7 linked regions of the Homo sapiens genome follow. The protein of the gene in region 2 interacts with the protein of the main gene of each other region in a pairwise test. Each region holds a gene or a part of one and is shown on either strand. Other genes may lie near its edges. The genes, in order: SMC5, CIP2A, CSPP1, NEK2, RBM5, CENPC and CEP152.

Evidence for each region.
Region 1: the proteins of CIP2A (region 2) and SMC5 interact in a two-hybrid assay, tested with the Homo sapiens proteins (one large-scale study listed by BioGRID).
Region 3: the proteins of CIP2A (region 2) and CSPP1 interact in a two-hybrid assay, tested with the Homo sapiens proteins (one large-scale study listed by BioGRID).
Region 4: the proteins of CIP2A (region 2) and NEK2 interact in a two-hybrid assay, tested with the Homo sapiens proteins (one large-scale study listed by BioGRID).
Region 5: the proteins of CIP2A (region 2) and RBM5 interact in a two-hybrid assay, tested with the Homo sapiens proteins (one large-scale study listed by BioGRID).
Region 6: the proteins of CIP2A (region 2) and CENPC interact in a two-hybrid assay, tested with the Homo sapiens proteins (one large-scale study listed by BioGRID).
Region 7: the proteins of CIP2A (region 2) and CEP152 interact in a two-hybrid assay, tested with the Homo sapiens proteins (one large-scale study listed by BioGRID).

What each region holds. Positions count from the first base shown.
Region 1 is NC_000009.12:70,345,978-70,349,477, forward strand, and holds part of SMC5 (structural maintenance of chromosomes protein 5), read left to right. Parts: intron 1-601; coding exon of another isoform or gene 602-627; coding exon 628-672; intron 673-1,088; coding exon 1,089-1,184; intron 1,185-1,635; coding exon 1,636-1,740; exon of another isoform or gene 1,741-1,744; intron 1,745-1,941; coding exon 1,942-2,061; intron 2,062-3,500. UniProt on the Homo sapiens protein: Core component of the SMC5-SMC6 complex, a complex involved in repair of DNA double-strand breaks by homologous recombination.
Region 2 is NC_000003.12:108,568,939-108,572,438, reverse strand, and holds part of CIP2A (protein CIP2A), read left to right. Parts: intron 1-2,831; coding exon 2,832-3,050; intron 3,051-3,500.
Region 3 is NC_000008.11:67,158,392-67,161,891, forward strand, and holds part of CSPP1 (centrosome and spindle pole-associated protein 1), read left to right. Parts: intron 1-55; coding exon 56-205; intron 206-599; coding exon 600-746; intron 747-3,419; coding exon 3,420-3,500. UniProt on the Homo sapiens protein: May play a role in cell-cycle-dependent microtubule organization.
Region 4 is NC_000001.11:211,669,122-211,672,621, forward strand, and holds part of NEK2 (serine/threonine-protein kinase Nek2), read right to left. Parts: intron 2,164-3,500; coding exon 2,081-2,163; intron 1,287-2,080; coding exon 1,160-1,286; intron 212-1,159; coding exon 1-211. UniProt on the Homo sapiens protein: Protein kinase which is involved in the control of centrosome separation and bipolar spindle formation in mitotic cells and chromatin condensation in meiotic cells.
Region 5 is NC_000003.12:50,095,419-50,098,918, forward strand, and holds part of RBM5 (RNA-binding protein 5), read left to right. Parts: intron 1-3,500. UniProt on the Homo sapiens protein: Component of the spliceosome A complex. Binds to ssRNA containing the consensus sequence 5'-AGGUAA-3'. Regulates alternative splicing of a number of mRNAs.
Region 6 is NC_000004.12:67,535,504-67,539,003, reverse strand, and holds part of CENPC (centromere protein C), read left to right. Parts: intron 1-3,500. UniProt on the Homo sapiens protein: Component of the CENPA-NAC (nucleosome-associated) complex, a complex that plays a central role in assembly of kinetochore proteins, mitotic progression and chromosome segregation.
Region 7 is NC_000015.10:48,752,070-48,755,569, reverse strand, and holds part of CEP152 (centrosomal protein of 152 kDa), read left to right. Parts: intron 1-3,100; coding exon 3,101-3,221; intron 3,222-3,500. UniProt on the Homo sapiens protein: Necessary for centrosome duplication; the function also seems to involve CEP63, CDK5RAP2 and WDR62 through a stepwise assembled complex at the centrosome that recruits CDK2 required for centriole duplication.

The sequences.
Region 1 (3,500 bases), on a different chromosome or scaffold from region 2:
GCTGATGGATTTGACATGAAGGATGAGAGAGAGAACCCCTAAATTTTTCACCTGAACAAATTACGATGCCATTTACTGGAATGGAGAAGATTGAAGGAGAAACAGGGTTGCTTAAAGTGATAGGGAAGGTGGGTGAAATCCAGATTCTGTTTCACCATCTTAAATTTAAGATGCCTATTAGAGTCAAGTGAGGATATCGAGTAAATAAATGTTGGACACATGAGCTTACATCTCAGTAAGTCAGAGATTCAACAGAGGAATATTTGAAGGTCTATAGAGGTTGAACTGCTTTCTAAGAGGTTAAAATAATAAGTTTAAGATATTAGATTAATATGTCAAGATCTTTTTCAGGGTTTCAGGATTCATTTTGTACCATGTAGTATATAGCCTTTGCAGGTTGTGCTAGGCCAAACAATGTACTGATTGCCTCCCCTCAAAAAAAAAAGTATATGTTCTAATTTGTCCCCATGGCATGGACTCAGAAGATAGTACTGTGGTGAAATTCAACTGTCAAAGTAATTAGATTCTCAGGATGCTTTTTTAGTTCTTCATAAGTGCAGTATAAAGTTCTAACTTCTTGCTCTCTTTCAATGCCCCACATATTCTGGACCCATTCTACCAATTCAGCAAGTACCCACCATTCCAAATGGACACAACTCCTCACTCCCCATGGTATGCAGTACTCATTCTTTTTTCCCAAGCTCCTGTTTTCCCTCTGCCTTGCTCCTCCCTAGCCATTTGCTTTAAGGCCCGGAGATGAATTCTAGGCCTTTGAATTCTCTTAACTCTCCTGTAGCATGAACTGATACTTCTTTTCTCTAAATTCCTAGCCTATATGATATGTACTGCTTGTTTTAATACTCAACATCAATACATTGCCTTAAAGTGTTATCCAGTACATACATTTTGTTTTCTTTAAAGTACAAGCTTTTGAAGGCAAATGACCCTGTTTATTATTCCTTTGTATTCTTGTGTGCCAGCATGCTGTTGAACAGATAGATAACTTATTCAGCAGATTATTTTTCTTTTAACTATTTGAATGGAACTGTTTTCATTGTATCTATAATGACGGGCAATTTTTTTCTTAGGTTTTCCAAGACCTTCCAAACACATTGGATGAAATTGATGCTTTATTAACTGAAGAAAGATCAAGAGCTTCCTGCTTCACGGGACTGAATCCTACAGTATGCCTGTTTCTCTATTCCCATTCTGCATCCAACCACCACCACCACCCTCCCCATACACACACATACACACACAGAGTTCCCTCCAGTACTTGCCTCCCACTCTGTACTAGAGCTCTTGGTAATAATAAGCTAGACAGCAGGAACAATGTACTTTAAATGCCAGATTCTGAATCTATTAGAATTTTAAATAGATTCTTCCTAAGGAACACAATGTTCTGTGCCTTTTCTTTATAAAAAGAATAGTTGGGCTAACCTGAAATACTGCAATGTCTATTTTTTCAAGGATAAAAAATGTCACTTTCAGTATGTAATAAGAGCATATATTATTTGCATACAAACAATGCAGCACAATTGGCATTTTCATTTAATGTTTTAATCAATGCAAAATTGTATATAGTTTTATCCTTTGGTAGATTTATCTTAAAGAAGTTTTTTTTTCCCCTGCCAGATTGTTCAGGAATATACAAAAAGAGAAGAAGAAATAGAACAGTTAACTGAGGAACTAAAGGGAAAGAAAGTTGAACTAGATCAATACAGGGAAAACATTTCACAGGTAATTTTTTAGTTTTTAATCTTTTTATCATGTGATTATTAATGAAATGGGAATGTAGAATAATGGAAAATGAGATGACATGCTTCTAAGAGAAGTGTGTTATGCCCAGACTGATACTGATATAAAATTTACATAAAATTGTGTGTCAGAATATAGTAATACTGCTTTTAAATTGTGTTTTTATATTGCCTTTATTTGTAGGTAAAAGAAAGGTGGCTTAATCCTTTAAAAGAGCTGGTAGAAAAAATTAATGAAAAATTCAGCAATTTTTTTAGTTCCATGCAGTGTGCTGGTGAAGTTGATCTCCATACAGAAAATGAGGTAAAATTGCATTTGAAATAAATAATATTTCTGGCAAATAATTTTAATTATATGCTTAAAGTACATATAAATTATTTATTTACTTTTGAGTTATATCTGTGAAAAGTTTTGTTTACCAAAATGTTGAAAGAAAGGAGAAAACCACCTGTGGGATTCCATTAGGGTCACTTTTTTTGGGGGGGGTTATGTTTGGAATTAGTGACTAATACCTTGTAACTCTTTTTATACATCTGAGTAATGGTTATTCAGTTGTATTGAATAAATACGTTATAAAGCTACCACAGCTGGAGTTAGAAGACTCAAACAGATTAGTTTGAAATATAGTGTATATCAGTGTCTTTTTTTTTTTAATAAAGAATTTAAGAATTCATGGTCAGGTGTGGTGGCTCACGCCTGTAATCTCAGCACTTTGTGAGGCTGAGGCAGGCAGATAGCTTGAGCTCACGGGTTTGAGACCAGCCTGGGCAACATGGCAAAATCGCATCTCTGTAAAAATACAAAAATTAGCTGGGTGCGGTGGTATGTACCTGTGGTCCCAGCTACTCTGGAGGCTGAGGTGCAAGGATGACTTGAGCCTGGAAGGTGGAGGTTCCAGTGAGCCAAAATGGTGCCACTGCACTCCAGCCTGGGCAACAAAACCAGACCTTGTCTCAAAAAAAAAAAAGAATTTAAGAATTTATAAGAATGGAAATAGTGGGAAATTTGCTACTAATTTCTTGTGCTGTAAGTTTATGCATTGCAATTTGGGCTAAAATTAATTTTTCTTTAAGACAGGCAAAGGCCAGGTGCTGTGGCTTATGCCTAATCCCACTTTGGGAGGCCAAGGCAGGAGGATCACTTGAATTCAGGAGTTTGAGACCAGCCCGGGCAACAGAGTGGGACAGAGACTCTGTCTCAAAAAAAAAGTAACTACTAGAAAATTGAAAATTACATATGTGGGTTGTATTATATCTTTCTCTTGCTCAGTACTATCTTAGACCTTAAAGCTCTATTCAATTAATAGATAACCTTTAATTAGTAAGTTTCATGTTTTTCGTTTTGGTTTTTTGAGACAAAGTCTCACTCTCACCCAGGCTGGAGCGCAGTGGCGCAATCTTGGCTCACTGCAACCTCCACCTCCTGAGTTCAAGCTATTCTTCGGCTTCAGACTCCCAAGTAGCTGGGATTACAGATGCCTGCCACCATGCCCGGCTAATTTTTGTATTTTTAGTAGAGATGGGATTTCCCCATGTTGGCCAGGCTGGTCTCAAACTCCTGACCTGAAGTGATCCACCCCCCTCGGCCTCCCAAATTGCTGGGATTACAGGCATGAGCCACCACACCCGGCCTAATTAGTAAGTTATGTATCTCATTTTTAAGGTAAATCTGAACCTGACATAGAAGTGCCATCAATAAGAATAGTAAACCTTAGAGCATCCTCAGTTTTGGCAACATTTATA
Region 2 (3,500 bases):
AAATGACGCTGGGTCAATTGAATATACATATGGGGAAAAACTGAAATTTGACCCCCTTCCTCATACCAAATGCAAAAATCAGTATAAGACAGGTTGTAGATTTAAATGTGAAGAGTAAAAATAAGGAACGTTTTAGAAAAAACACCTAAAGAGTATCTTCATGGCCTTGGGGTAGACAATGATTTTCTTAAACAGGAAACAAAAGCACTAACTATACAGTAAGAAAGTCGATAAGTTGGGCTACATTAAAATTAAGTTTCTATTTATGAAAAGACCACTAATAAAAGAATGAAAAGTCAAAGAATGGGAATAGATATTTACAATGCATATATCTAACAAAGGACTCTTATCCAAAATATATTATTTTTCTACATTGTATGTATATATCCGAAAAAACACAGAGCCGAACAGATACTTGAGCAAAAAAGTTGAATTGGTCAATAAACATGAAGTGATTTACCACTTTATCAATCTTAAGGGAAATGCAGATTTAAATGGTAGTATCATACCATCTGACACCCACCAGTTGATTAAAATGAAAAATAAGGAAAATAGCAAACATACTTTAACTCTCATTTAGTACTTACAGAACAACCAATTATGAAAACTGGTATCTATTAATACTGGGCATATGTATAAACTACGACCCAGAAATCTCACTTATAGGTATTTATCCCAAAGAATTGTTTACATGTGTACAAAATGTAGTACTGCTCCTAATAGCTAACAATGATAACCCAAATGCCATTAACAGTGGAATATGTTCATTTTGGGAAAGTCATCTAGCTCTGCACTAGTAATTAGTTTTTTTACTTTTATATGTGTACATTAAAAGAAAACTAATGTACATGGAAAGCTATCTGCTTCTATGTTTATAACGGACATATGGTAAGATACACAAACAATTGGTAACATTGCTTGCCTACAGGGTTTGTCTTTTGAACCATGTGAATGTATTACCTATTCAAAAATAAATATAGTCATGCATTACATAATGACATTTTAGTCAATGACAGACACAGACTTCTTATTGCCTATGACATTATGGCCATTCTAACATGGTGGTGCAATGCATCACATGTGTTTGTGGTGATGCTGGTGTAAACAAACCTACTGAGCTGCCAGCTGTATAAAACTATAACACATATTAAGATTGTATACAGTACATAGTATTTTGATAAACGTGTTACCACTTATTCTTTGTTATTTTAGAGTGTACTTCTACTTATAAAAAAGTTAACTGTAAAACAGCCAGGCAGGTCTTTCAGGAGGTATTCCAGAAGAAGGTATTGTTGTTATTAGAGATGACAGCTCCCTGTGTGTTACTGCCCCTGAAGACCTTCCAGTGGGACAACATGTGGAGGTGGAAGTGGTGTTGATTACCCTGGCCCTGTGTAGACCTGGGCTAATGTCTGTGTTTGTGTCTTTGTTTTTAACAAAAAAAGTTTAAAAAGAAAAAGCCTACATTTTAAAAATAGAAAAAACTGATAGACTACAGATGTAAATAAAGTATTTTTGTATAGCTGTACAGTGTGTTTCTCTTACTACAAAAGAGTCAAAAACTTTAAAAATGGATAGGTTTATAAAGTTAAAAAGTTCTGCTAAGCTAAGGTTAATTTATTAGAGAAATTTTAAAAAATAGTGTAGCTTAAGCATACAGTCTTTATGAAATATACAGCAATATACAGTAATGTCCTAGGCCTTTACATTCACTCACTACTCAGTCATTAACTCACCCAGAGCAACTTCCAGTCCTGCATGTTTTGTTTATGGTAAGTGTCCTATACAGGTGTACCGTTTTTGATCTTTTATACTGTATTTTTCTATGTTTAGATACACAAGTACTTACAATTGTGTTATAGTTGCCTACAGTATTTAGTACAGTAATATTCTGTACAGTTTTGTAGCCCACGGGCAATAAAGGGACGTAGTAGGCTCTACCATCTAGGTTTGTGTAAGTACACTCTTACGATGTTCACACAACGGAATTAATGATGCATTAAGCAACATATGCATCACTAAGTGACACATGACTGTACTACAGTTTATTAAAGATTATCATTTGTTATAGTAAATGCTAATGGACTGGATTCTTTTAAATTCAGATACTATCAAGTTGATTAAAACACAAATCCCAATTATATATCATTTGTAAGAAACAGACTTTTAAAAAGTTGGAAATAGAGAGACAAGGAGATCTTAAGAAATTTTTTTTTTTTTAGTGATAAGTTGGTAGTATGTGAAATGAGGTGGAATTTATCTTAACATCTAATAAACTGGTTGATGGGGGATGTTATGGTATAAGGCCCAGTTTATAAAGTAGAGGAAAAATGGGGTACAGTAGGAGAGCTAAGGGTCATAATGCCAACCGTATGCAAACAGTGTGGAAATAACCATCCTGAAGGTTTTATATTCTATGCTACAGTATCCTTTATAGCGGTTATTGAATTTTAGGATTATAACAAGTATTACTAATTCTAATTTTATTTTTTAGGGTTTTTTTGGTCATTTATAAACAAAACAGGTTTCTGTTTAAAAATAATTTAAGTACTATGGAAGGAGTGGGAGGAGTTTAACGTTGGCTGAAGTTGACCTTCCCTCTGAGGTTCTCACAGTCCTGCTTATCAGGAGTAACCACCATTAATAAGTTTATTTTATAATCTTCTAGAACCTATTCACACATTTGAAAAATAATATTGAAAGAAAAAACTTAAGTTTTGTTTTAGAATATTTTCTTTAAAATATGTAGCATTTTCAGCTTCATCATACACTTGCTTTGTATATTAAAGTTCTGTGAAATTGATGTTTAATGAACACTTTATATTGCACAGGTTTTAGAATTACTTCTTGCCTTCTGTTCAGTGACTCAGCTGCGCCATATGCTCACTCAGATGATGTTTGAACAGTCTCCACCTGGCAGCGCCACTCTGGGAAGCCATACTAAATGTTTAGAACCTACTGTGGCTCTACTGCGCTGGTTAAGCCAACCTTTGGACGGATCAGAAAACTGTTCTGTTTTAGCATTGGAGTTGTTCAAGGAAATATTTGAGGTAATAGGATGACTGACAGATTGACTTTTCTACTTTTGTGACTCTCAGTTAACAATTTGTCTTCAAAAACATTCTTTGTAAACTTACAGTTCATACACTTGAGGAAAACATCTCAATTACTAACAGTCATACTAGACTCGCTAGGTTTTTTTCTGCCAGTCATATATATTAGTGTTTTCCTTTTTTTTCACTGAGTAGTGTGTATGTATATATATATATAGTGCTCATTTCAGTGTAATAAGTAAAGATATTAAAAAGATTTATATAATTTGTTGCCTGACTACTGGGGATAGTTACATTGTCTCTCCATTGCAATAGATGCCATCTACCAAGTTTAGTAGGCCATTGAATGGACAATAGAGGCATATTGGATTCAGTCAGTGAAATGGAGTAGAGCATGCCAGATAATGTGCTAGGCACTTAAGATACAGACAAAACTCCACATTCTGG
Region 3 (3,500 bases), on a different chromosome or scaffold from region 2:
ATATTCTAACTTTTCAATAGTTTTACAAGATAAATAACTAAGTTTAATTCTTTAGATTGAGGAAAAGAAACAAAGAGAGGAAGCAGAGCGAGAGAGACTGAGAATTGCAGAAGAAAAAGAAGAAAGACGGCTTGCAGAACAGAGGGCACGAATTCAGCAGGAGTATGAAGAGGAACAGGAAAAGAAAAGAGAGAAAGAGGAGGAGGTACATCTTTTTTCCCTATTGTATTTTACTACTTAGTCTGAAGGTGAAATCTTTGACTTGAAAAGGTATTTCTTACTTATAAAGGAGAACAGTGTTGGAGTACATTTAGAAAATATCAGATCAATATACATTCTTTGGATATTATTTTATTAAGGTGAAAGGGTAATTTAAGAAAGGAGATAAGTGATGACTTTAAAAATATAGATGTAGGCTGACTGAAGACTTTATAAAAGATGCCTAATATTTTATTTTTAAGCAGACAACTTATGTTAAAGAACACCATATCATGTCATCTATATCTTTATCTCATTTTATCAGATAAATAAGGCAGCACATTTTTGAATGTACTATAGAAGGAATATATGGAATGCATATTTCTCTTTTTATTTTAAAGCAAAGGCTAAAAAATGAAGAGCATATTCGGTTAGCTGAAGAAAGACAAAAAGAAGCAGAAAGAAAGAAGAAAGAAGAAGAAGAAAAATATAACCTGCAACTTCAGCACTACTGTGAAAGAGACAATTTGATTGGGGAAGAAACAAAGGTAAGTTTCAGACAAAAATGTCAATCAAACCCATAGTTTAACTCACTTTCACTGTGAGAGTTGTACAGTTGTTAGAAAAGGGGAGAAAGAGGAGGAGGTGCTTTTGTTCCTGTTCTGTCTTACTGTTTAGTCTGGGCACAATGTACTGAACTTTCTGTAGGAGGTACTGTCACTGTGCTTTGTTGGTATTTTCTGTCCATTGAAGGTAATGGATTTACTTACTTGAGCCATTCTTAGTCTCATTCCCATGGTGTATGCGGTGCCACCCAAGAATATGGTCTGCAGACAGTACAACATGAACTGTTTGTTATGGTTCATGACAAGACTAATACAGAAAGTGAGAGTGGTTTATATATATATATATATGTATTCTTTTTTTTTTTTTTTTTTTTTTTTTTTTTGAGACATAATCTCGCTCTGTTGCCCAGGCTCTGGAGTGCAGTGGCACAATTTTGGCTCACTGCACCTCCACTTCCTGGGTTCAAGCAGTTCTCCTGCCTCAGCCTCTCAAGTAGCTGGGACTACAGGCACACGCCATCATGCCCAGCTAATTTTTGTATTTTTAGCAGAGACGGGGTTTCACCATGTTGGCCAGACTGGTCTCAAACTCCTGACCTCAGATGATCCACCCACCTCTGCCTCCCAGAGTGCTGAGATTACAGGAGTGAGCCACCACGCCCGGCCTTCTCTCTCTTTCTTTCTTTCTTTCTTTCTTTTTCTTTCTTTCTTTCTTTCTTTCTTTCTTTCTTTCTTTCTTTCTTTCTTTCTTTCTTTCTTTCTTTCTTTCCTTTCCTTCCTTCCTTCCTTCCTTCCTTCCTTCTTTCTTTTCTTTTCTTTTCTTTTCTTTTCTTTTCTTTTCTTTTCTTTTCTTTTCTTTTCTTTTCTTTTCTTTTCTTTTTCTTTTTCTTTTTCTTTCTTTTTGTTTTAAGAGACCAGGTCTTGCTATGTTGCCCAGGCTGATCTCAAATTTTTGGGCTCAAGTTATCCTCCTGCCTCAGCCTCCCAAAGTGGTGGGATTGCAGGTGTGAGCCACCACACCCTGCCTCACAGATAATTTTTTATTGTAAAATTCATCATTTAAGAATTTAAGGTCGAGGCAGGCGGATCACTTGAGGCCAGGAGATCGAGACCAGCCTGGGCAACATGGTGAAACCCCGTCTCTATAACAAATACAAAAATTAGCTGGGCGTGGTGGCAGGCACCTGTAGTCCCAGCTACTCAGGAGGCTGAGGCAAGAGAATCGCCTGAACTTGGGAGGCGGAGGTTGCAGTGAGCCGTGACTGCACTGTGGCACTCCAGCCTGGGTGACAGAGCGAGACTCCATCTCAAAAAAAAAAAAAAAAGAATTAAACAGAATTGTTAGTTTCCCATAATTATATTTCTTGTAATTTCTTATGTTTTTTAAAAATGCTATTTTTTAAGGAATATATACTTTTATGATATTATAATTTAATTGTAAAGTACCATAAAGTTTTAAATCAGCTTTATCCCATTTAATGCATTTGCCTTTCTGAAATTAACATTGCTATCATTTTCTTTCATTTATGTATGTCTGATATATATATATATTTTTGTCTATTCCTTCAGTTTTACCTTTGTGTCACCATATTTTTTATTTAGTTAGCTTCTATCTTTAGTTTGTTGAATTTTTAAAATCCTAATCTGAGTTATAATCTTTTTATTTTTATTTATTTATTTATTTATTTAGAAATAGAGACTCGCTTTGTTGCCCAGGCTGGAGTGCAGTGGTGCAATCTCGGCTCACTGCAACTTCCGCCTCCCAGGTTCAAGTGATTCTCCTGCCCTAGCCTCCCCAGTAGCTGGAATTACAGGTGCAAACTACCACACCTGGCTAATTTTTATTAGAGACGGGGTTTCACCATGTTGGCCAGGCTGGTCTTGAACTCCTGTCCTCAGGTGACCTGCCTGCTTGGCCTCCCAAAGTGCTGGGATTATAGACATGAGCCACTGCACCTGGCCTAATCTTTTAAAATAGGGATATCTAAATCCATTTATGTTTATCAAAACTAATGTCTTTGCATTAATTGCATTTCTGACTTTTTTGTGTTTTTCTTCCTTGATAGCTTTTTGGTCTTTTGTTATGTGTACTATGGCTTGTTTGCTCCATCCTCTACAGGGATTTAGAATGTCTATGTTGTATTTACAATGAAGTTTTTGGACTATAAGGTTTAATACACTATAAACTGAAATATAGAACCCCATCGTGATCTTGAAAAGTCCCTCATCCATGATGCTGTTAGTGATTAGATCTAGATTTTCGAGGTTGATTTGTATTGCTTTCCAGAAGGATTTTGTTATTTAATTTTTTTGTATTGTCATGGTACCTTTTTATTATTAAAGATGATTCTTTAGTTTTGTTATATTTTTTCTTTTTTGTTGCTTTACTTGTGTTTGTTGATTTTTTAAATCCTAATCTGACAGTCATACTGTTTTAATAAAGATGTCTAAATCCATTTATGTTTATCATAACCAACATGTTTGATCTTATGTAATTGAATTTCTGACTTTTGTAGAAAGCATTTTATTAAATAAAAGCAATAACAATCTAAACTTCTTAGATGACTTTCTTAACTATAAGGGGTGTGTGTGTGTGTATATATGTGTGTGAGTGTGATGAAGCAAATATGCTCTTAAATTTTTTAAATTTTTCAGCACATGAGACAGCCTTCTCCTATAGTTCCTGCTCTTCAGAACAAAATTGCAAGCAAACTCCAAAGACCTCCTTCAGTTGAC
Region 4 (3,500 bases), on a different chromosome or scaffold from region 2:
TTTCTTCTCTTGCTTTGAGAGCTCGCTCTCGCTCCTGTAACTGAATTTCCTTCAGTTTCAGCTCACTCAATACAGGGCTGGAATCCTGCGATTTTTCTGGCTCTCCTAATTGTCGCCCTCTTCTCTCAAGATTTCTTCTTTGCTCGTCTGCAACCAAATCTGCTATTAAAGGGTTCTCAAGAATTTCTTCAACAGAAGGTCGATGGTAATCCTGGGGAAAAAATACTCAGTATTATAGTCAGATTGCATAACAGAATAGTCCTCCTAAGACAGCAGTTAAAATAAAAGGACAAAAATGTGTTTCCAAGACAAAAGAAAGGACTCCTTTATGGCTAGGTCTTAAAAACTTGGAAAAATAAGTTCACTGGTGGTTTTAACTCATGAGGTTCTGGGTCCACAAGGTAATGCAGATGTTAACTTACCTTTTTTCCCTTTTCCCCTTTTCACCTTTCTAAGAAGGTTCAATCCCTGAAGATTGGCACATCTTGTGCTGGGGCTTGGTAGCATTGCTAGGGTCTGTTTTAGGGGAAGTACTGCCCTTGCATTTCTAAACTACATTTAGCAAGATACTCTCTCACTGACTCTCAATCCTGTCACTTCATCTGTATCCTTCTCTGTGATCCTACGGCATTTTCCTTCTTCTCTTATGTCAGCCTGGTCCCCAGAACATCTCCTTCCCCATTCTATAGCCAGAGTTTTTCCACATAATCTCTTTATTGATTTTCCCTCTGTTTTTAGCTGTCCTCCGTCCGCCCTCCATCACCCCTCCCCTTCTTCTGGTCTTTAATCTCTCAATTAGAGCTAGAGGCAGAGTAATAAACTCTTATTTCTGGCCCCTTCCCTCACTACCTGCCACTGTGAGGTAGGCAAGGACAAGGGGAACGAGAATTTGAATTCTTTTTGCAATCTTTCCTTGCTACCGACCATCTGTTAGCATGACAGAGTGGGAGGAGAAATAAAGAAAGCGCAGAAGGTGGGCCAGCAAGGATGTGCAATTTGCCAAATTTACATATGTTTTCACTTGTGTTAACACAGTAAATTTAGCTAAGAAAGTATATTTAACGTTTCTTCAGTCTCCATTGATCTACAAGAGAGAATGTATGCTCTGACACTTAACTGACAGCTAGAAACAGACAATATATCATCTTATCATCTTTACCTTTAAGTTTAACATCCTCGTAATAATTTCATTCAATTCATCAGAGTAACGGTATGGAATTCGCCTGAATTTGCCTTCTCTGATTTTCCCAGCGAGTTCTTTCTGGCTAAAAGCTGTAAATGGAGGCCTAGGGTTAAAAAAGAAGAAGAAGACGACGAAGACATTTTCAAATTGTAAAAATGAAAATATACAATAGGAACTAAATCAAAAGCACAGCTTAAGCTCCAGTTTGTATTTAAGTTTCTACTTCTGGGATTTTCTTCTTATAAGTAAGTTTCCCAACCTTGGCACTATTGACATTTGAGGTCATATAATTCTTTGTTGTGGGGGGCTGTCCTGTGCATTATAGGTATTTTGTAGCCTCCCTGCCCTCTACCCTCTAGATGCCAGAAGCACTCCCCAGCTGTGATAACTAAAAATTTATCCAAACATCATCAAATGCCCCATAAGAGGCAAATTTGCTTCCCTTATCCCTAGTTGAGAATCACTGCTCTACAGAATAGTTTCAAAGGGAAAGAAAATGAAAAGAAGAACAAAGGAAAAGAATTGGAGCTCTTCCCTGCTCTACAGATCCCCAGACCTCTACCCGAGTCTTGTTTCATTTCTTCCACATCCTTACAGTAGCTTTACCTTACCTGCCTGACCTATGTGCTCTCCCTTGAGCTAAGTGTCAATCTAATAAGAAAGCACCTAACCAGCCAAGACCCTTGAACAGTCAAGACCCAGCCTCATGGCTTATAGTTTTAATTTGTGAATAGTTTCTTTTAGCCTGTTCATCTATCTACCTTAATTTTACCCAGGGTACAATTCTTTCAGACTTGAATATACTTTCGTTAGCACAGAGGCTCAAAAAACTGAACCCAGTGAAATGTGACAAACAGTACAAACCTTAGACTAGGAATCTGTCTTCATCATACTTACATTAATGCACATAACTCATACAGCAAGCAGCCCAATGACCAGATATCTGATTTCTCATTGTAGGACATGCGATTCATTTGTTCCTATACAGGGAAAAAGGGTAAGAAAGTGGAAGGTGTTAAGAGTTTATTTTGTTTTGAAACTTAAAAAACACATTAAATTACTCCTGAGATAAAAACAGAACCTCAAAGTTTTTAGCTTATACTTTATCTTGAAATTTATAATGGAAAAAAGGCAATGATCTTGTTCCAATACACTCCATCATACATAATTCATTCACTCATTTTCCATTCACAAATGAAAGTGCTTAGTATAGACTAGGCACTGACAATACAGAGGTGAATATGAGAGACTTCTACTCTCAAGGCAAATTAAGAAACACCATTTTAAAAGAACTAGAGGAAATTTAAGAATAGTCAAAATATGTATCTAGTCCACATTTAAATGGATATAGACATAAATAGCTAATTGAATTATCCATTTATATTTTGTCTTAGTCCACTCCATAAATCACAGTAGTAACTAATATTATCCTTACCTATTTTATTGTTTGCCTTTCTTCCACATCTACAGTAACAACAGCCTACCAGAGCTCCTATTCTCAACAGAGGGAATAGAAGCAATCTCTAGTGGCTGGTTAGTGTTTTAAAGTCCAACTGGTGAGTCTGATGCCACTTTTTGACAATCAGTGCCTTAGGAAAGCTGAACCACTCTAATTACAAGGGCAGGAGGGAAAAGGAACAAAAGAATAGGTTTCAAATTTCCCAAGAACCACTTCTGGATAATTGTCCTTTATGTTAAAAACATTCTATTTGGAATTTGATACAGTGAGAAAATGGTACTGTTCTGGCTATTTTTAGTCAAAACCAAAATCATTAATTTACAAAGTTTTATACTATAGTAAGATCTGTTAACATAATTTATAAATATTTGGAAAATCCTAGAAAGGTGAACTACTAAAATACTAACAAATATTTCTTCATCTTTATCTGTTCAGATGTTATATACTAACACATTAGTGCTATCACAATTGACTTAAACTTTTTAAAAGCCATCAGACAATATCTAATAACAGCCATAAACATTTACCCCAGCAATTTCATTTTATGAGCTACACTCCAAGGAAATAACCAAAAAGGAAGAAAGAATAATTCATACAAAGATATGCAGAGCAGTACTTCTAAGAATGGTGAAACATGTTGGAAACAAAATATCCAGCAATAGAGGTAATTGGTGAGTGGACTCAGCAAGATATTTCAGGGATAGGCAACAAAAAAATAAAATGTACAAAAAGTTAACATTGTAAAAACATGCTATCTGAAGTGAGCAAACTTCCTGAGCTCTGATTCTGCATACACAAGAATCATTTACAGAGCCTCTTAAATGCAAAGTCTAAAATAAAAAGTAAAATATTAAAAAA
Region 5 (3,500 bases), about 58 Mb from region 2:
AACTACCCATTTGAAACCTCAGAAAAGCTTGTTAAAAAGGACGGCTCATTCAGACTGGCCAATTAGAGTCTTAGTGTACTTGGCACTGCCTGATTTCCAGCAGCATCTCTGGTCCTCACCCTTCCTTCCAGCCACACCCTACTTTCCACATCCTGGACTTTGGACATGTCCATTGCTCTACTGTTGTGCCTTTTTCTGCTTGGAGACGCCTGTATGTAAAGCCTGATCTATCGGGCAGAGCTTCTTCTTCGTTATTCTCTTCCTAAGGCACTGTATTCATGACTTTTGTGTAGCACCTTTACTGTAGCCATCAACACACATGTCTCATCTCTACCACAAGATCTCTGAAAATAGGCCTCTGTGTGAACTAGTCACCTCTGTGTCCCCAACCCTTGAACACAGTATGTTACTCAGCCAGTGCTCTTGGTAAAAATGAATGTGAGGTTTTAAAACAGCAGTGTGCCAGTATTTGTTTTCTTGGAGTAATCAAAGTAATATTCTGACTAATGTTTAGTTGAATTTTGGATAAAGCTCAAAATAAGCATTGGATTCCCGTAGCTTTGGGTTTCTAAACCCTGGAAGTAATGAATGTGACAAATGTGAGACAGGATATTAGAGTTAATAGTGGGTAATCATTCCATTATTTGTGATCCACTGCACATCTGCTACACTGTACATGTTAGATGCTACAGTGACACAGAGCTATGGATCTTGCCTCAAAAAAGCTTATGGATGAGTAGCTAAGGTCAGCAGATAATGGTGACAATGCAGAATAGAAAGGGGTCAGAGGCCGAGTATGGTAACTCATGCCTGTAATCCCAGCACTTCGGGAGGCCAAGGTGAAAAGAGTGCTTGAGCCCAGGAGTTCAAGTCCAACCTGGACAACATGGTAAGACGCATCTCTCCAAAAAAAAAAAAAAATAGCCAGTCTTAATGGCGCTTGTCTGTGGTCCCAGTTACTTGGGAGACTGAGGCAGGAAGATCACTTGAGCCTAGGAGGTCAAGGGTACAGTGAGTTGTGTTCACGCCACTGCACTCCAGCCTGAGCGACAGAGCAAGACCCTGTCTCAAAAAGAGGGTCATGTCGGAAAAGGTCCTATTGAAAGAGGTCTGCCTAAGAGCTCTTGAAGGTTATTTAAAGGAAATTGTTACTAGTGGAGGGTAAGGAATCTTCTATTTTTATTTTTGTGAGACAGGGCCTTACTCTGTCGCATAGGCTGGAGTGCAATCGCGTGATTGTGGCTCACAGCAGCCTCCAACTTTTGGGGCTCAGGCAATCCACCAGCCTCAGCCTCCCAAGTAGCTGGGATTACAGGCATGTGTCACCACTCCGAGCTAATTTTTTTTTTTATCGTTTGTTTTTTTTTTTGTAGAGACAAGGTCTCTCTTTATTGCCTAGACTGGTCTTGAACTCTTGTCTTCAATCAATCCTCCCGCCTGGGTCTCCCAAAGTGCTAGGATTATAGGCGTGGAAAACTAAGGGAATGGTGTGGTAGATGGGCCCTTCAGGCGGAGGGGTATCACATGAGCAGGGAATAGAAAGGTACTGAATCTAGATAAGGCCTAGCAATCGGCTTGATTTGGCTGGAGTCAGAGGCTTTTGGCAGGAGAGGGATGAGTGGCAAAGTGCTATTGTGGCTAGGGGCTAGAGTTCTCAAAAGTCTAGCTAAGCCTAAAAGAATATTACTGAGGGTTGGCCAGGTGCGGTGGCTCACGCCTGTAATCCCAGCACTTTAGGATTCTGAGGCAGGCGGATCACAAGGTCAGGAGATCGAGACCATCCTGGCTAGCACGGTGAAACCCTGTCTCTACTAAAACTACAAAAAAATTAGCCAGCCGTGGTGGCGGGCGCCTGTAGTCCCAGTTACTCAGGAGGCTGAGGCAGGAGAATGGCATGAATCTGAGAGGCGGAGCTTGCAGTGAGCCGAGATCGTGCCATTGCACTCCAGCCTGGGCGACAGAGCAAGACTGTCTCAAAAAAAAAAAAAAAGAAACTGCTACAAGTATTGATTTGAGTGTTAGAAATTTTAATGAGTGGTTGAATTCACAGGTGTGATACCTGAGGATAATGAGGATTGGCTGTGTGTAGTCTTGCAGCCGTTGCACCTAGTTATGGAAAGTAGAGGCCAGTGAGAATCTTGTTTCCACAAATTTCACCCTGTTTTTTTTTTCATGGTAGTATTCATGCCTGATATTATTGATGAAGAGACTAGTATATTTTTGTGGCCTTTTGGAAAAAGGAGTTGGTCTGACATTGGAACAAGCCTACCAGCCAGAATACTTTATTCTAGCCCCAATTAATGTTTGATTTATTAGGAGCCTAAGAATGTGATGAACTTTGAAAATTTTTACCAATAATTTAACTGTAAGAAAAGTATGATCCATTAAAAATGTTTACCTGGCCTGGTGCGGTGGCTCACGCCTGTAATCCCAGCACTTTGGGAGGCCAAGGTGGGTGGATTACCTGAGCCCAAGAGATGGAGACCAGCCTGGGCAACATGGTGAAACCCCTCTCTACTAAAATATAAAATATTAGCTGGGTGTGGCGACATGCGCCTGTAGTCCCAGCTACTCTTGAGGCTGAGGCAGAATTGCTTGAACCCAGGAGGCGGAGGTTGCAGTGAGCCGAGATCATGCCATTGCTCTCCAGCCTGGGCAACAGAGTGAGACTCCATCTCAAAAAAATTTAAAAAAAAGTTTATCATCAGGCTCTTCATTTTTTGGCTGTTGATTTTTTTCCTTATTTTGAGAGTAGGCCTCAAAGAGCAGGAAGGCTATTCTTGATTAGGCGTACTTCAGGGCACAGTGACGCATCCACTGCCTCTTTTAAATCTCATCTGAGTCCTTATTTTTATTTTTTTATTTTTTTAAAGATAGGGTTGCACTTTGTCACCCAGGCTGGAGTGCAGTGGTGCAATAGCCCATTGTAACCTCGAACTCCTGGGCTTAAACAGTCCTCCCACCTCAGCCTCCCAGGTAACTAGGACTACAGGTGTATACCATCATGCTTGGGTAATTTTTATTTTATTTTATTATTTTTTTTTGAGACGGAGTCTCACTCTTGCCCAGGCTGGAGTGCAGTGGCGCGATCTCGGCTCACTGCAACCTCCGCCTCCCGGGGTCAAGCGATTCTCTTGCCTCAGCCTCCCAAGTAGCTAGGACTACAGGCACGTGCCACCACGTCTGGCTGATTTTTTGTATTTTTAGTAGAGACGGGATTTCACTGTGTTAGCCAGGATGGTCTCCATCTCTTGACCTCGTGATCCACCTGCCTTGGCCCCCCAAAGTGCTGGAATTACAGGCGTGAGCCACTATGCGAGGCCTAATTTTTAAAATTTTTGTATACAGATGGGGTCTTACTGTGTTCCCCAGGCTGGTCTCACACTCCTGTGCTCAAGCGCTCATCTTGCCTCATCTTCCCAAAGCGCTAGGATTATAGGCTTGAGCCACTGTACTATCCTGCAGAACAAAGGACAGGGAGATTAGACTAAAGGATGGAG
Region 6 (3,500 bases), on a different chromosome or scaffold from region 2:
GCTAGAGGTTCCTCTTCTAGGTAGAATGCAGTAAGTCACAGAAGGCTAACACTCCTGCTAAAGCAGCTATTTTAAAAAATGGAAACAAATTTTAGATATATGAGAAGCTGTGGAAACAATAAAGACTAGCAAAATATAGTCTGTGGCTAATTTTCTTCCCTTCTGAGGCAAAATTCTTCTCTACTGTGTCCCGTTACTTATGGAGGTTTTCCACTCTGGCTGGTAGATTATTCTAGGTCCTTTGTAACTGGGAGGATATTCCCCCTCAAGGCTTCGGGTGGTTCTTTCTCTGGTTTTCTTACAACGCATTCTCTGATCAATATTTGATTGAATGCTTGAGAGAGATCTGCACATTCTGCAGTTTTCTCTATGTAACCGTCTCCTGTCCAGTACTTTATCCTGCAAATTCTAACCACTTTGGTCTTCCTGAATCCTCAGCTTTGGCTCCTCAACTGAGGATTTCCCCTGTGTGTCACATCTGGAAATGGGTGATCAGAGGGTTCACCTCATTTGTTTCCCATCTCAAGAATCATTCTCTTTGGTTTTTCAATGTCGTATTTCTTGAGAATCTTGTATGTTTTTTCTTTTTTTAAAATTGATTCAGGCAGGAGGGTAAATCTGGTCCCTTTTAAGACATTGTGCTCTAAAGCCAAGGTCCACTGCAATGACTTCTAAATGACTTTAGGCCAAAGAAGAAAGCATGTTGGGAATATAAAATATTCTGAATGAAGATAATAATATGACTTATCAGAACTTGTGAGATTTAGCTAAAATAGTGTTAGAGGGAATTCATAACTTTAAATGTATAATAAATAAGAAATGTTCAAAATAAAGGTTCTACTCTGTGTTTGTACTGGTCTTGTAAAATGAGTTGTTCAGTATTTTCTCTGTCTCTTTTCTCCTGAAGTGTTTTTATGAACCACTATTGTTTCTTTCTCAAATATTTGATGGAATTCATAGGAGTTTTCTCTTTGCGAGAATTTTAAAATACTAATTTATTTATTTATTTATTTATTTTCTGAGACAGGGTTTCACTCTTTAGCCCAGGATGGAGTGCCATGACATGATCACAGCTCTCTGAAGCCTTGAACTTTTCCTGGGCTCAAACCCTTCCGTCTCAGCCTGCTGACTACCTAGGACTATAGGTGCATATCACCATGCTGGCCTGCTTATTTATTTATTTATTATTTCTCTATCTATCTATCTGTCTTGAGACAAAGTCTTGCTCTGTCACCCATGCTGGAGTGTAGTGGTGCTATCTTGGCTCACTGCAACCTCTGCCTCCGGGGTACAAATGATTCTCCTGCCTCAGTCCCCCAAGTAGCTGGGGTTACAGGCGCCCATCTCCACACCTGGCTAATATTTGTATTTTTAGTAGAGATGGGGTTTAACCATGTTGGCCAGGCTGGTCTTAAACTCCTGACCTCAAGTGATACTCCTGCATTGGCCTCCCACAGTGCTGGGATTACAGGTGTGAGCCACCGCACCCGGCCATTTTAAAATTTTTCTTTACAGAGGCAGGGTCTCACTGTGTTGCCTAGGCTTGTCTCAAACTTCTGGGCTCAAGCAATCCTCCTGCCTCAGCTTCCCAAAGCATTGGGATTACAGGCATGAGCACTGTGCCTGGCCTCACTTTTGTTTTCTTATGAAACATAATACATTAAAATACACAAATTGCGTGTATATTTCATTGAATTTTTACAACTACTACCTAGATGATGATATAGAACATTAAAGATTTAGATTTTACTTAATAGTTTCAGTAGACAATTTAGATTTTCTATTTTTTTTAAATGTTCTACTTTTCTTTTTTTAGGGATTTGTTCATTTTATTTAAATTTTCCAGTTTATTTGGATAATGTTGTTTTGTCATGTCTTTTTCCAGTCTTGTTAATGTCTGTAGGATCTACAGTTATATCCCCTTTTTTATTCCTGACATTGGTTATTTATGCCTTATCTTTTTTTTTTTTTTTTTTAATTAGAGGTAGGGATCTTGGTATGTTGCCCAAGCTGGATTAGAACTCCTGGGCTTAAGTGATCCTCCCTAAGCTAAGGAATAGCTGGGATTACTGCTCGTAAGTCACATGCCACTGTGCCTGCTATGCCTTGTCTTTTTCATCGATTAATTTTGTCAGGGTTTATCAATTTTGGTCTTTCAGAAAACCAAGTTTGGCTTTGTCGGTCCTCTCATTTGCTTGTTTTTAGTTTCATTATTTTTTTCTTAATTTTATTTTTCATATATTCTTTATTTTTATTTTTATATTATTAATTTTTTCTAATCCTTGAGATGGATGCTTCAAAACAACAGAGACTTTGTAGGTGTTAGGGTTTTTTTTTCAGGTAGGGCCTTTCCATGCAGCAAGCTTGGCCTAGGCCTTCCACATAAGGAATGAAATTTGTTTACTTGATTTGAAAATAAAATCAGACTTAAGACTTATCTATCTTATAGGCTTTTCTGTTTGCGAACTTGAGATTCCTAGGTCTAGTTATTACTTCATATTTGTTTGTCTTTAAGTAAAATAAGATATGACTCCGTAGGTTTTAACTGAAACACAACCGAGCTTCATGAAATAAATTAGTTTTTCTCTTCTGTTTTCTGGGATAACTTGATTAAGCAAAAATGATCTGTTTCTTCAAATTTGGATCATTTGTAAAACATATGGTTGGAGCTGTTTTGGTGGGGATGTGTGTGATTACCACTTTATTCAATGATCTATTGCATTTTTTATATTTCTTTTGCCAGTTTTGACATTTTATAATTTTCTTGAAACATTTCCTCTGTTCTCAATTTGTGTATAGTCAACTTCATGATCTTCCTCATAGTTATTACTCTCTTTTTATTGCTGGTTTTCACCTTTTTAAATTATCTGTGTTGTTACAGGTATTTTTCTGTCATTAACATTTTCAAAGAATCAGCAGTCTATTCTGGTTCACTATTTTATTCTCTTCCCTATCTTTTTACATACTTTTCTTCTTAATTTGTTGGAAGATTGATTTTTAAAGCTCAAAGGCATTATGTACATGGAAGTTAAAGTAGTTCCATAAATTCCACAAAAAAATAGTAGACCCCACTTTTCCTCCTCCAAGTCCAACTTTTTAGTCTTAGCTATTACTCTAGGTATTTTGACTCCATATTTCTAAATAATGTTTATATTGCTGTTTCTTGATTTTTTTTCCCAGTCTTTGCTATTATTTATTGGCTTTCTACTATGGAAGTTTAGACTTTATTTGTCATATAGTTTCTACTTCCGACCACAACACATAAACTTCCATTCTTTAGTACATCATAATTTTTAGTAGGATTAGTAGTTAGTGTTTATGGTATTATTATGACTGTTTCAGTAGTCACAGCTATGTAGAGTACTAATGGTTAAATTTTCTTTATGTACAGTTCTTAATTTTCTCTTGATTTAATTTTGGTTTTTCCATTTTTGACTTTCTGTGCACCTGTGACTAATTCATCACCAGTTTTCTATGACAAACGTCTAAGTATAAATGTC
Region 7 (3,500 bases), on a different chromosome or scaffold from region 2:
ATACCTATGTAGTAAACCTTCACGTTCAGCACATGTATCCCAGAACTTAAAATAAAATAAAGAATATATGCTGTTCTTTCTAAGGGCCTGAGATTTCAGAAACTGAAAATTTTTTTTTCAAAATTCTGTTTTCTGGGCCTGACCACTTCATGAAATATGCATAATAAGAGTTTCTTAAAAGCTTGTAAAGAGTTTGGAAGCCTATTTATTGCCCTCAATAAATTTATGTCTCATTTAGGCAAAAAAATGCCAACCAAGTACAAAGGTATTGATATAGAAACAAGCAAATAAATACGACTCACTCGCATAAAACTCTGAAGCCCAGTTTCTGGATGTACTATATATGTGCATATAGAATTAATTATATTCTTTTAGTTATATAAGTACTCTCTGAGACCAGCTTTTAATTTGTATGAAAGTTTCAGTAAAACCAAATTCTTGCTACCTTATGATCAAAGCAATTAGGTATGCATGAAAGATCCAGAATGATATTCTGAGCATGGTGATTAGCCAATTTCAACATTTGGGATTAGAGGCAGGAAAAAAAAAAAAGCCAGTATTATAAGGTTTGTCTAATAGAGTTGAGACTTAAGAGTGAAGTTCCATCAAAATATTGTGATTAAGGAGTTTCAAGGCCAGGATTGAGCATTTGGTATTAATACCTACTTGGGAGAGTTATAAACTAGAAAAAATAACCTTGAGTTTCAGTTCCATATTCGATGATAACTAGATTATTATATTGGGCAATCACATAGTTGCTCACTGGAAAAATAAAATACAAATCCCCGGCCTAATTCCTTGGGTTTGGGTAGGATATGCATGGCACAGCTTAGCCTTTCTGGGTCCTGCATTTGAAACAGTATAGAATTTTAGAGCCAGAAGGGACCTGAAAGATCAGCTCACTCCATCCTACTTCACCCCAGTTGATATTTTTATCCTTGACCTCACAAAGATGTTGCTACCGAGTAGTTGCCTTCAATGTAAAATTTACTGGGCAAGATCACTTCCCATGAATACTGCTTCACACTTAATTGAGATTTTTTGGAGAAAATAATTAAAATAACTTGGAGAAAACATATAATTAAAAAATTATAGCAGATTTGGAGATGAGAAATGATGGGAAAATCATGTTTACATGCTTTCGTTTGTAAGCATGTTTCGATTTTTATAACAGTTATAAAATCTGTTATAAAAATCAAGAAACTATGACACCTTTCTCCTACCATTAATATATACATATAAAATCAACCCTGGAGTCTTTTTACAGGGCTTATAATTGTGCAAGCAGTATAAGATCATCTGTGTGACTTAATGAGGCTCATAAGTCTATGGAGACAGAATCACATAATCTGGCTAAGAATTTAGATGTTTACGGCTTTTGTTGGGTGGGTCAGATTCCATTCCTGAGAAAAGGATGGCTTTGAAATGCCTAATCTGGAATTTGTCATAGAAGTAATACTTGACCTTCTGCCATTTTCGAGCTATCTTCACTCAGGACCTTGAGGTAAAGCTATGATTATAGAGCAGTGATTTTAAATTTGTTACATAGGTGCTGTAAATGTGAGGAACTATAATTTATAATTTATTAACTCTCTAGTTTTAAAAATTGTTCATGGAAATTAAAACAAAAGATGGTTTATTAATATATAAAAACAAGTCCTCATTAAAATAACTGAGACAATCAAAAGTTTTTTTAAATGGAGAGGATGCAATGAATGAAAAATATAGCTTTCAAGAAAATGAATGCCATATCAAAATATATTAATACAGTAGTTCATAACAGATAAAACAAATATCAAATGGAACAAAATTTTCAAGCAAACTTAAGGATGTATGTTGTCTCTTTTACCATCAAAGTCAAGTTAAAACTGAGACAAAAAGGTTGTTGCTTTTCTCCCTTTTCTGTTATCTTGACTTTTCTTCCCCAGTTTTGAGTAAAAACTGGAAGCACTGACTGCATTTTGGTTCAGCTTTTCCTACTCCTTTTGACCTCAAACCCATAGCTTCTTGATTGCCTCTTCTCTATAATTGCTAACCTCTGCTTCTGTTGGACATTGTAAGTAGGTTTTCTGACAGTCAATTAAGTGGTTTCTCATAATCAAAATCAAGGCTTCTAGAATCAGGCATATATAGTATGTTTTAAATAATCAGTAAGACTACTTTCTCCATACCACCTATTCTGTTCCTTTCCGATTTAGTAGTCATCTTAAATCTGAAAACATTACCATAAAAATCCATTGATTTGGCTGAGCGTGGTGGCTCACACCTGTAATCCCAGTACTTTGGGAGGCCAAAGCAGGCGGATCACGAGGGTTGAGGCAGGAGAATCGCTTGAACTGGGAGGTGGAGGTTGCAGTGAGCTGAGATCGCGCCAATGCCCTTCAGCCTGGCCGATAGAGGAGGACTCCATCTCAAAACAAAAACCAAAAATGAAAAATCCATTGATTTAGTAGCTGTATTGCTGTGACAAGGACTGGAACATAAAAACGTTCAATAAATATTAGTGAAGAAATGGTCTTGTGCAAGATGTTTAATTTAGCTAAGCCTCAGTTTCTGTCCTTAACTTTGGCATTCAGCTGGCCTTCCTTACAAAATTACTGTGTATGTTAAAGTATTTAGAAGCATATGAAGTACTATATAAATTTAAAATGATTTTTAACTGTTATTTTCAATTCATAGGAGGCAGAGGGTTAGCATTATACTTGCTAATTAACTTGTTCCTTGCTGTAGTAAAAATGTTCTAGATTTTCAAGAACAATTCTGATTTTATATTGTCTTTCATGTGGTTTAATCACGTAAACCATTGAAAAATCTCAAATTCACATATATAATGTGCAAACCATATCTTCTGTCTGTCTCATAGCTGCCCACCAGTCGCCTGTCAGACAGTGTTCTTATTTGGAAAGTTTCATAGGAAGCTAGTTCCTAGTACAGTGACAGTACTTATATAACACCCTAAGAAAAATATTGGCGATAGATAGTTCAGGCAAGATTTTTTTCAGGTAGTGTTTTCTCTTTGTATTTTTAATATTAGCATTTTAAATATAAAATTGTATAAAGATTTTTACTAAGCATTAACTTTGAAGATACTTTATTTCAGAGAAATATGGCCGAGCTCTCTAAGGATTCTGCCAGCCAGGGCACTGGCCAAGGAGACCCTGGACCTGCTGCTGGACACCATGCTCAGCCCTTGGCCTTACAAGCAACAGAAGCAGAAGCTGGTAATTGGATTTTGTTCCCACCAGTCTTTGTAGCATCCATAATCACCCATCTGAAGGGTTGCTTTGAGGATAAAAGGAGATCATAGATGTGAACAAATGGGTAATAATCGTCTGACTTAATGTCCCCTCTTCCTAGATTTCATTTTGTATTTAGATAAGAGGGTTAATTTAGGCCCTCTTCTTCTATTTATGGTTTTCCCTTCATTCACAACTGATTCTTGTTACAAGGAGAATCATGAGAGTTTTAATGGAGAAGTCATGTTTTTATTCCCTGAAATC